2 separate regions of the Homo sapiens genome follow, and region 1 is linked to region 2. Evidence: fine-mapped expression QTL. A gene starts in region 2. The other region holds a variant in brackets. All regions are shown on one strand. Distances are from middle to middle. Region 1 has its middle 10 kb from the start of MIR6719. Region 2 holds the start of FBL (fibrillarin).

Region 1 (5,374 bases), 26 kb before region 2:
TAATGTTGGGGTATGCCCAACTAATAAATATTCATGAGTCCACACGGAAATAAACTAATGATTGTATAAATAAAATAAGTGAAGTATGATAGAAGGGACAAATCTTCCATATGGAATTCTAAATAGTAAATGTAAAGAAATGAGGGAAACAGAAAGTCATCATTATAATATCACGGTAATAACTGCTACAGACCGGGTCCACTGATGAATGCTAAAATGTGTGGGTAAACTTGAAGGAGAAATGGGATATTTGTGCAGCCTCCAAGTATCTCCCTATTTCCCTCCAGGAATCAGGCTTAGCTCTCCTCTGAGTGTGGGCTGGATTTAGTGACTTGCTTCTAACAAATGAGTAAAGGGAAAATAGTGGTATTATCGTTGGGAAATCTGCAGACACCACTTTCATGAAGTGATCAGGTTAACCTCACCTCAGTGAGCATTCTTCCCAAAGCCTAAAATCCCAGTCTAACCACGAGCAAAATGTCAGACAACCTCAGACTGAGGGCCATTCTACAAAAACATCTCACCAGTACTCCTCAGAACTGTCAAGGTCATGAAAAACAAGGAAGGACTGAGAAATTGTCACAGATTGGAGGAGGCCAACGAGAAATGACCAACAAATGCAACATGGTATCCTGGATTGGATCCTGGAACAGAAAAAGGACATTAATGGAAAAACAGGAGAAATAGGATTCAAGTCTGGAGTTTAACAGAATATTAATCCATGTTAATTTCTCAGTTTTGACAAATATACAATAATTATGTAAGATGCTAACACTAGGTGGAAGTTGGGTGTAGGTATAGGGAAGTCCCTGTATCATCTTTGCAACTTGTCTGTAAATCTAAAATTATTAAATTTTAAAACGTTCACAAAACTTTAAGTCTCCTCTGCAATATGGCTCGAGGTGGTCCCCCGCGGAGTTCCAAAGCACGCTTTGTTTGACTCATCCTTCAGATCTCATCTTACATGCTCCCCACGCCAGGAAGTCCCACCTGACACCACAGACTGGGTCAGGAGCTGCCTCTGGCTCCCACAGTCCCCCTGTGGCTCCCCTATCCTGGCCCCAACCCCTCTGCCTCCCCATCCCAGCCCTGGTCACTGTCTGCCGTTGGGGTTGTCTTCCCCACTGGACTGTGAGCTTTGCGAGGGCAAGGTGGAGGCTGTCTCAGCCATTGCTGTGTCTCAGCCATTGCTGTGTCTCTCTTGAGTTGAGAGTAATGCGTGTCTCCCTGACTCCTCTGGGAATACCCATGAACAGGCAGAAGCTGCGCCTGAATCCTCCCAACTGACCCTTAACGCTTCACAGCCCAAGGCCTGCCAGATCCACCTTCCTGGTATCCCCTTTCCTGTTTGCTCAATCCAGGACACATCTGAGGCAATATAAATGGTCTGTCTCACCCATCAGCCAAAAGAGGGTCAAATCATCTCCAACCCCTGCCACACCTGCCCACCCACATGTCCGCCCTGTACACCAAGTGTCAGAAACACATGGTGACTGTGAATGTTTGGGGGGCCTGCCCAGTCCACAGCCCTTCTGAGCAGACAGTCATCACTATAGGAACCCTCCAGCTCCAGTGAGTTGAGCAGGGTTGGATACCCGACCCTGGAAATCCCATTCCTATCTGGGAAATTCGGAATGAAGACTGAGGGGCTGCGGGTAACTGAGCTGGAAGATCACATAGAGTGGGGGCAAGAGTCCACCCAGGACCAACCCAGCTGCCTGAGAACAGGAAGCAGCCAATGCAAAGAGAAGCAGAGACCACAGGGCCCAGTGGAAAGGAGGAATGTCACACCACTGTCTCACTTCTGCTTCTATTCTGTTCTCATGAAGCCCTTGTCAGGTTCTTTCCATCACTACCCACAACCAATCACAGTGAGTTCTGCCTTCAAAATGCACCCAGACTCCAATGACTACTCATTCTGCCCCTGCCCTGGTACAGGCCACTGTCATCTCACCTAGATTATTGCAGCAACCTCCTCACGGGCCTCCCTGCTCTCATTCTCAGCCCACACTTCCATCTATACACCCTCCCTTAGTGATCCCATCCTGGGCTTTAATACCATAAATATGCCAACTACTCCCAGCCCAGATCTCACCCTTCAATGCCAGTCTTGTATAAGCTCCTGTTTGGCCAGTGGGTCCAGTCAGAGGCTAAACACGCCCACACTCTCTCTCAGTCTTGTCCATACAGTTAATGGCACTCCCTCCTTCCTCTGTGCAGACTAAACGCCATAGTGTGGTCCTTGACTCTTCTTTCTTACCCTACATACCTGATTCTCCCTTCAAATTATATGCAAAATCTGACCACATCTCCCCACCGCCCCGTTAGCACCCTGGCCAAGCCACTATCATCTCAGCTGGACTGCACAGTGGCCT[C/T]CTCACTGGCATCCTGCTTCCACCCTAGTAGCCACATGGGAGCCAGAGGAACCCTCTTACCGTGGTAGATCACATCGCCTCAGCTCACCATGCTCTCCCTGCCACACATCTCATCAGCTTCAAATTCAAGTCCTTCCCATGGCCTCCCGGTCCCACCTGACCTTGCCTTGGTCTCCTTCCCTCCCACTGTGTCCAGTCAGGTCCAGTTCACTCCTTTCTGCTCCTCCAGCACACCAAGCATGCCTCGGGGCCTTTGAATTTGCTGGTTTTTTCTACCTGGAATGTCCTTCTTCCCAGAATATACATACAGCCAGCTGGTGTCCTCCCTTTCTGTGAGGTCCATTAACGTTTTTCTCAAAGAGGTCTTCTTTAACCCCTCTATCTAAAATAGCACCTCTTCCCACTCTCTAGTCTTCCAACCCTCAACTTCTACAGCTCTGTTCACTAATATTAGCATTCATCTTGCCCACTGGAATGCAGGCTCCAGGAGGACAGGGCTTTCGGGGGTCTTGTTTGCTACTATTAATAATACCAGCACCTAAAAATGCTTGGCATGTAGTAAATAGCCAGATCTGATGACTCAACAAATAAGAAAACCCTGGAATCAGTTAGGATATTGTTGATTCTAAGTAATAGAAAACTCAATTCAACAATATAGTTGGCTTAAACGATAGAGATATGTTGAATTCCCTAATGAGAAAGTCTAGAGGTAACTCACTCCAAGTGAGGCCTGATCCAGCACTTCAACAACATCACCAAAGACTCGATGTCTTTCCATCTCTCTACTAGTCCTTCCAAGAAAATGGCTAAAATCACATCACTAAGAAGTGGGTTGGCTGGACGCAGTGGCTCACGCCTGTAATCTCAGCACTTTGGGAGGCCAAGGTTGGTGGATCACTTGAGCCCAGGAGTTCGAGAGCACTCTAGGAAACATGGTGAAACCCCATCTCTACAAAAAATACAAAAATTAGCCAGGTGTGGTGGTGCATGCTTGTGGTCCCAAGTACTCAGGAGACTGAGGCAGGAGGATCACCTGAGCCCAAGAGGTCTAGGCTGCAGTGACTCCAGCCAGGGTGACAGAGTCAGGCCCTGTTTAAAAACAAAAAAAAAGAAGAAGAAGAAGAAGAAAAAGAAGTGGAAGTGGGTTACTAATGTGTTTATTCATCTGACCGCCACTTCTTCAACAATTGTGAAAATTGTAATGCTGATGAACATGATGCTGATAATAATAGCTATCACATATTCAGTGCTTTGTGCCAGGCGCTTTACTAGTACTTTATTAGCTTCTGTGTGCCTTCATTTCCTCGTTTGTAAAATGGGAACAGTAGTAGTACCACATACGGTGACTGAGGATTAAATGAGCTAATACATAAAATGGTAAGATCTTAAAAAAATATTAGCTTGTTTCAGTTAGCTATTGCTGTGTAACAAAGCATCCTAAGCCACAGGGGCATAAAATAGCAACCATTTCTTTGCTCATGATTCTGCAATTTGGACAAGGCTCAAAGGGTCAGGGGATTTGAGATGGTTCATTCCTACTCCACATGGTGTCAACTGGAATGGGAGTTAGGCCATCCCAAGATGGCATCACTTGCACGCCTGCACATCAGCTAAAAGTTGGAACAGCCGCGGGCTGGGGCAGATCTATAGAAAGGGCAGGGCTCCAAGAGTAGAAGCAGAATCTGCCAGGTCTCTTAAAGCCTAGGCCTCCATTTAGTACAGCATCATCTTCATTGTATTTTTTTTTTTTTTTTTTTGAGAAAGAGTCTCACTCTGTCACCCAGGCTGGAGTGCAGTGGTATGATCTTGGTTCACTGCAACCTCCACCTCCCGGGTTCAAGTGATTCTCCTGCCTCAGCCTCCAGAGTAGGTGGGACTACAGGAGTGCACCACACCTGGCTATTTTTTTTTTTTTTTTTGTATTTTTAGTAGAGATAGGGTTTCTCCATGTTGGTCAGGCTGGTCTCGAACTCCTTTCCTCAAGTGATTCACCTGCCTCAGCCTCCCAAAGTGCTGGGATTACAGGCATGAGCCACCGCACCCAGCCTGCTTTCATTGTATTCTATTGGTCAAAACAAATCTCAGGGCCAGCTCAGATATAAGGAGAAGGAAGGAGACTCCACCTCTTGATAGGAAAAACAGCAAAGAATGTGTGGCTGTCTTCAATCACAGCTATTTTAATTCCACAGTAACAGCCTTGTCACTGGTCTCCCTACTTTAATCCTTAATGCCTTATAGTCAATTCCCCACACAGAAGCCAGAGGAGTCTTTTAAAGTACACTTTAGTGTGAAGAATTTTAGAAGGAAACACACACACACACATACACACACACACAAACACCTGACCACGCTCCTGTCCCCAGCTTAAAATTCTACAACTTCCCACTACATGTGGGGTAAACACCCAAACTCCTTATGGCATACACAAGGTCTGACCTCTTGCTCTGCATCAGCCTCTAGGCTCCAACCATCCCAAACTCTTATCTCTTAAAGGAGTTAATGCCTACTCCTTCATCACCTCAAACCTCATTTCCTAGGATCCGGATTTGATTTCCTATCAAGTATTCTTATAACACTCTCTACCTTTCTTGGTAATTTCACACGTGTGATTATTTGATAGTCTAAATTACTGTCCCTATTACTGTAGGTTCTATAGGGGTAGGGGAATATTTTGTTCTCTTCTGTGTTCCCAATGCTGAGGAGAAAGAAGAGGCAAGGTGAAATACTTGTTGAATATCTTGAGCCCTCAGAAAACTTTAAGGCAGCTCCTTGGAGTTCTGTAGAAAGGGGATCGGCAGAGTCCCCGCCATGCTGGGATCCAGATATGTGCTCTTCAATAGTTTATTTGATAAGTAGTTACTGAGCCCTAACTGTGTGCCAAGCACTTTTCTATGTGTTGGAGATAACGGAGGAAGTAGACAAAAGCCCCTTCCCTGATGAAGTCAACAGTCTCCTAGAGGTAAGGGTCAGGGGAGACAGACCATAAACACAGATAAATT
Region 2 (5,374 bases):
TCAGATGGTGACCAGGGAAGTGCCGGTCACTCCCCTCAAGTATCGCATATGGAGAGATAGGCAATGTTGCTGCCACTCTCGACCCTAGTAAGGAAGGTTCATAGGGGTCTTGAAAACTTCATCTGTAAGACATGGAGACAATACAGTGCCAGGCCACGCGCCATAGCTCATGCCTGTAATCCCAGCACTTTGGGAGACCCAGGCAGGCGGACAGTTTGAGGCCAGGAGTTCAAGACCAGCCTGGCCAACATAGTGAAACCCTGTCTCTACTAAAAATACAAAAAATTAGCTGGGCGTGGTGGCGCATGCCTGTAATCCCAGCTACTCAAAAGGCTGAGGCACAAGCATCAATTGAACACAGGCGGAGGTTGCAGTGAGCTGAGATGGTGCCACTGCACTCCAGCCTGGGTGACAGAGAGAGATTCTGTATCAAAAAAATAAAAATAAAAAAAATGCAGTGCTCATCCTATAGGGTTGTAAAGATTAAATGACTTGTACCCACAGAGCACATCACATATATACTATCTGGCACCTACTTTGAACATCATCATTCAAACTCAGGGGTACGCGTCTCCTCTTCCCTCCTCATGTACCAAAAGTACCCATTCCTCAGAAAAAACACATGTTCACACAAACTTTTCCAGTTAGTTCTTTTTTCATCTTTCTATTAAAGATGAAAATGTAACTTTTAATAGCTACTCCTAATTTGATCTTTTAAAATGAAGTTTCCTTTTCAAAACTCTAGAACATAACTAAGAGTTGTTCACTTTTTAATGTTCTACTCCCCCTACAGTCCACTTTCCACACAGCAACTAATAAGTGCTGTTTTTGAAACAGCAACTCAGATCTCAATTTTCTTGCCCAAGCCCTCCAACAGTTTTCCAAAGCCAAGACCTTCATTTAGGGGAGATGCCACAGCTAGGCTTATGAAAGTCTCAACCCAGGCCTAACAGAAAGGAAGTACTGGCATGTGCTTGGGGCGGAGTGGGCATGAGTGTAAACTTTCAATCCCAGATACTCAAAACATCTCAATCCGTTTCAGGTCCTGGAGCTTTTGGGGGAAAATGTACCAAAAGTACCCAGTCCTCAGAAAAAACACATGTTCACACAAACTTTTCCAGTAAGTTCTTTTTTTGGGGGGAGGGGGGTCCATAAACCCCCTGATTTAAAATCTGCTCTCCTTCCACAGCCTTCTCCATCTCAAAAATGGCAATTCCATCCTTCCAGTTACACACCCCCAAACCCTTGGTTATCCTTGACTCCGATCACACACCCACATACAATCTGTTGGTTCTGTCTTCAAAAGCATGTAAAACTGTCAGCATGTCCACTGCTCCCATCCTGGTCCACCACACCATCTCCTAGATTACAGCAACAAGCTTCCCACCAATGTGCCTGCTTCCACTTTTGCCACCCTGAGGTCTTTCACACATCGAAGCAAAAAGAATCCCTTTTAAAAATGTCAGACTGCACCACGCCCCTGCTCAAAAATCTCCCAAAGGGTTCTTTTCTCACTCAGGCTAAAATCCTTACTAAAGAGCTAACACCTGACAACTTTTACAACTTCACATTCTACCACACATGGAGGAAGGTTGGAAGAACGGGTATCCTCCATTTATGAGGGAATCACAGACCAGAATGCCTGCAGGCAAGCCAGGATCTCAGCATACCTGGCCTACAATCCCCCACCCCACTTCATCAAGAGATCCCCAAACACGGAAGAGAAAGGGAACTTGGGAGAAGGGCACAGATCCACAAATCTCCTGCCAGGTGACCCCCATCTCTCCACACAAACACACACACAAAAGAAAAAGAAAGCCTGTACTAGGAAAACAGACCCTTTGGGCCATGGTGGAAATTCTCCAAACTCAATGAAGCAAGTTCTCACACAGATGAGTGCGGGTTGGGCAGGCCAGATGGAGGAAGTGCTCAGGCACCACCGAGAAGGATTCTAATGTTGTTCTCTTTGAGAAAGATAAAGGTAACAATTAGAGCTAATACTATTATATGTCAAGCACTGTGCTATTTTTTTTAACGTCGCTTAATCCTAACTGGCGCCATTTTATTGATGAGAAAACAGAGGCTCAGAGAGGTAAAGCCACTTGCCCAAGTTCACACAGCAGGCTAAGAAGCTGAGCAAGAGCTGACACACTGAACTGAGGCCCTTCTGCTGTCAAAGCCAGGACCCCCTCATCATTCCACCATGAAGGGAGTGGTTTCAGCAGAATCTAGTGGAAAATCTTAAGAATAAAACTACTTACCTCCTGTGACAACCACCCGCCCCACCACCCCAGACTAATGCCGAGCTTGTTAAGTCTCGTCCCGGAGGTGGAAATCTTAATCCCCAAATCTCCACTCCATCCCCGGGGATCCGCCCCACTGTAAGTGCAGAAGGCGGGAAAGTGAGCCGAAGAGCGCCGCACACGGCCAACCGGGGAGTCCTCATCCACTCCGGCCCACTCGGAAAAGCTGGGATGCGGGATAAGGGGATGGTGGTGGTGGCAGCGACAGGGAAGGCAAATGGGGGCTTCCCACACACAGCTCCAGGACCCAAGGTCAGGAACTCTCCATCTCCGACCCAAGCCTGATTCCCAAAACACGCCCAGCGATCCAAGACTCCAGATGCCTGAATCCAAACTCTAGCCCAAGACCCTTGAGTGCCGCCTCCTGCCCAATATCCAAAATCCCTATTAGACGGCCTCAATGAGACGAACCCCACGTCAACACCCCCAATGCCAGGCCCACGGCCTTCTTCGACTCACGACCGTGACCTCTGAAGCCAGTCACAAACCCCTAGACCTGCTGGAATCAGAATCCCCCTTCCCACAGGAGACTGGAACCCGTGCTCAGAACCCCTGCCCCCAGGCCAAGGCCCCACCCCTCCGATTCTGGCCTGGCACCCGGATTCCCGCCCGGCCTCCGTCCCTGACCCCGGACCCTCACCCCAGCCTGACCTGGCTTCATGGCGAGCCCTGGTTTGTGCGGCTCCGGAGTCCGCGGCGTTCACAACTCCACGAGTCCGGGGCTTTCGCACGTGGAAAAGAGCGCAGGCGCGCGGCGACGTGCGCTGCGTGACGCCACCCCGTAGTCCCGCCCCCGGGCCCCTTCCCCGCCCGGAGCTCGGCGCACGCGCAGTGAGCCTGGATTCTCGAGCCTGTCGACACGCAACCCGCTGCCCTCGCTCTCTGCCTTCCCAGCCTTTGCCTGTGCAGCGGTCGCCCTAAACTCGCTTCCGGTTTCCTCTTCCCCAATGCGAGCACCCCAATAATCAGGGCTCATAGCCTTCGCACGGGCTGTGCCCTCTTTTGTATTCCTAGCTAAATCCCTCTGGCCCCTGTACACCCAAAAAGGCTTCCCCAATACATTTCCAGCCCCAAGAACAGTGACCGACTCTGGGCTTCCATTCAAACATCCGAAAAACATTTACAGTGCACCTCGTGTGTACCAGGTGCTGTTCTAGGAGCTGGGAATACAGCGGTGTACGAGACATAAAAATCTCCACTCTCCTGGAGTTCATCTTTTTAATGGAGGAAATAGACACCAAACATGTTGAATGTTTGAAAGCGATAAGTGCTTTGGAGAAAATAACAGCAGGGAAAGGGGATAGAGATTTTGGAGGGCAAATGATTTTTGTTTTTTTGGCACGGTGGTCAAGGAATGCATCAGGAGACTTTTGAGCTAAAGGGCTGAAGGAAGTGAGGAGTGAGGCATGCACCTATCTAGGGGAAGAGAGTTCCAGGCAGGGAAAAGATCTGCAGATGCAGAGGCCCTGAGGAAGGAAAGATATGGGAAGTTGGAGAGACAATGAGGAGGGTGGGTGGGGCAAAGTGAGCAAGGTGGAGAGTAAGAGGAGATAAGGGCGGGTAGCTAACAAGGGCAGATTGTGCGGAGCTTTGTGGGACATAGTGAGGACTTAGGCAGTAAGATGGAACCATGGAAGGGTTCCAAGCAGAGAAGGAATGTGATCTGACACAGGTCCCTCTGGCTGCATGTGGGAAGCAGACTGCAGGAGTGAGGGTGAAAGCAGGAAAACCAAGGACTGGCTGCTGCCGTGAATCAGAAGAAAAGGATGGACAGATCAGAGTGGGGGCAGAGAGCGGCGTCAGGGGTCAACAGATTCTGCTTAAGTATTAAGAATTTTGGGCTTTGTAATTGTGTAATATCAGTATCCATCCCTATATTCATTCTGCAAAGCAAGACAACTGCTGTTATGAGAAGTTACCGAAAAACTCCAGAAGAACCTACCAGTCCAGAGCCTAGATGTTGACTCTGTTCCATTCACTGCTCTATCACTCTAGGCCTAGGACAGCCCTCTGGGTGCCCAGTAAATGTTTGTTGAATGAATGGATGGCCTCATACCGTTGTGAGTTCTCTGTGTACAGTGTTCCAGCTGTGGAATGCCACCAATTTGCACAGAAACATTCCTGAAAGATTGTTTAGATATTATGATGGAAAATCTGCTTAAACTTTTCAGAACCGGTCGGGGCAGTGGCTCACACCTGTAATCCAGGCACTTTGGGAGGCCGAGGCAGGAGGATCGCTTGAGCCCAGGAGCTTAAGGCCAGCCTGGGCTACAGAGTGAGACCTTATCTTTACAAAAAATAAAAAATTAGCTGGGTATGGTTGCTTGCACCTGTAGTCCCAGCTACTCAAGAGGCTGAGGCAGGAGGATCCTTTGAGCCCAGTAGGTCTAGGCTGAAATGAGCCATGACTGCACCACTACACTCCAGCCTGGGTCACAGAGCGACACCCCTGTCCCAAAACAAAAACAAAAACCAAACAAAAAAAACTTTTTAAAAACTATGAGATGAAATAGTTGAGTCTATTCTGGATTTCTAGATGTGCAATGATTCCAGTGGGTCCAATTCCGGATAATGTTACCTATTTCACATGGATTTTACTATTTGCCTTCTAATTAATATTTTTCTTCTAAAGGACAAAAGTACTCAGAGTGCAGTGCAGATTTAGGGGATTCCAGCCCTATTTCTTGGAATCCTGGCACCATCTCCTGCTTCTGAGATACTTTGCCTGCTAGCTTGCTCTGAAGACCTGAAATTGGCTCTATCGGTAAGTAATTAGTGGTGGAGGTGCCTGTTGGTCTTGTGCTGGGGACACAATGGTGGCTAAAACAGCCCCGGGTCCTGTCCTCCTGGAGCTGCCAGTCCAATAGGAGAGACAGACAGGTTCCCAAACAGTGTTGGCCCAGAGGGGTCAGGGCTGGGACAGGCAGAGGGGTAGGAGGGCAATGGGGGAAGCACCGGCAGAAATGGGACTGGGGAGCCCCAGGCAGGGGGCTCAGGGCCAGGATAGGGGAGGCCCAGGCAGAGAGGTGGGAGGGGGATGGAGGAGACACTGGCAGGCAGGGCAGGGCAGG

The links. PIP is the estimated chance that this variant, and not a neighbour inherited with it, causes the effect.
Region 1: its variant is fine-mapped to the expression of FBL in sun-exposed skin (GTEx, PIP 0.96).

Annotation. Positions count from the first base shown.
Region 1 is chr19:39,817,069-39,822,442 of GRCh38, forward strand. No RefSeq gene overlaps it. Among named protein-coding and RNA genes, the nearest start is that of MIR6719, 10 kb to the right of the region's middle. The variant C/T (reference allele first, on the strand shown) is at 2,376.
Region 2 is chr19:39,843,337-39,848,710 of GRCh38, forward strand. It overlaps FBL (fibrillarin), which reads right to left and starts at 3,043. Exons shown (of 9, transcript NM_001436.4): 1 at 2,955-3,043. The coding sequence starts at 2,964. RefSeq lists an enhancer at 1,848-2,588.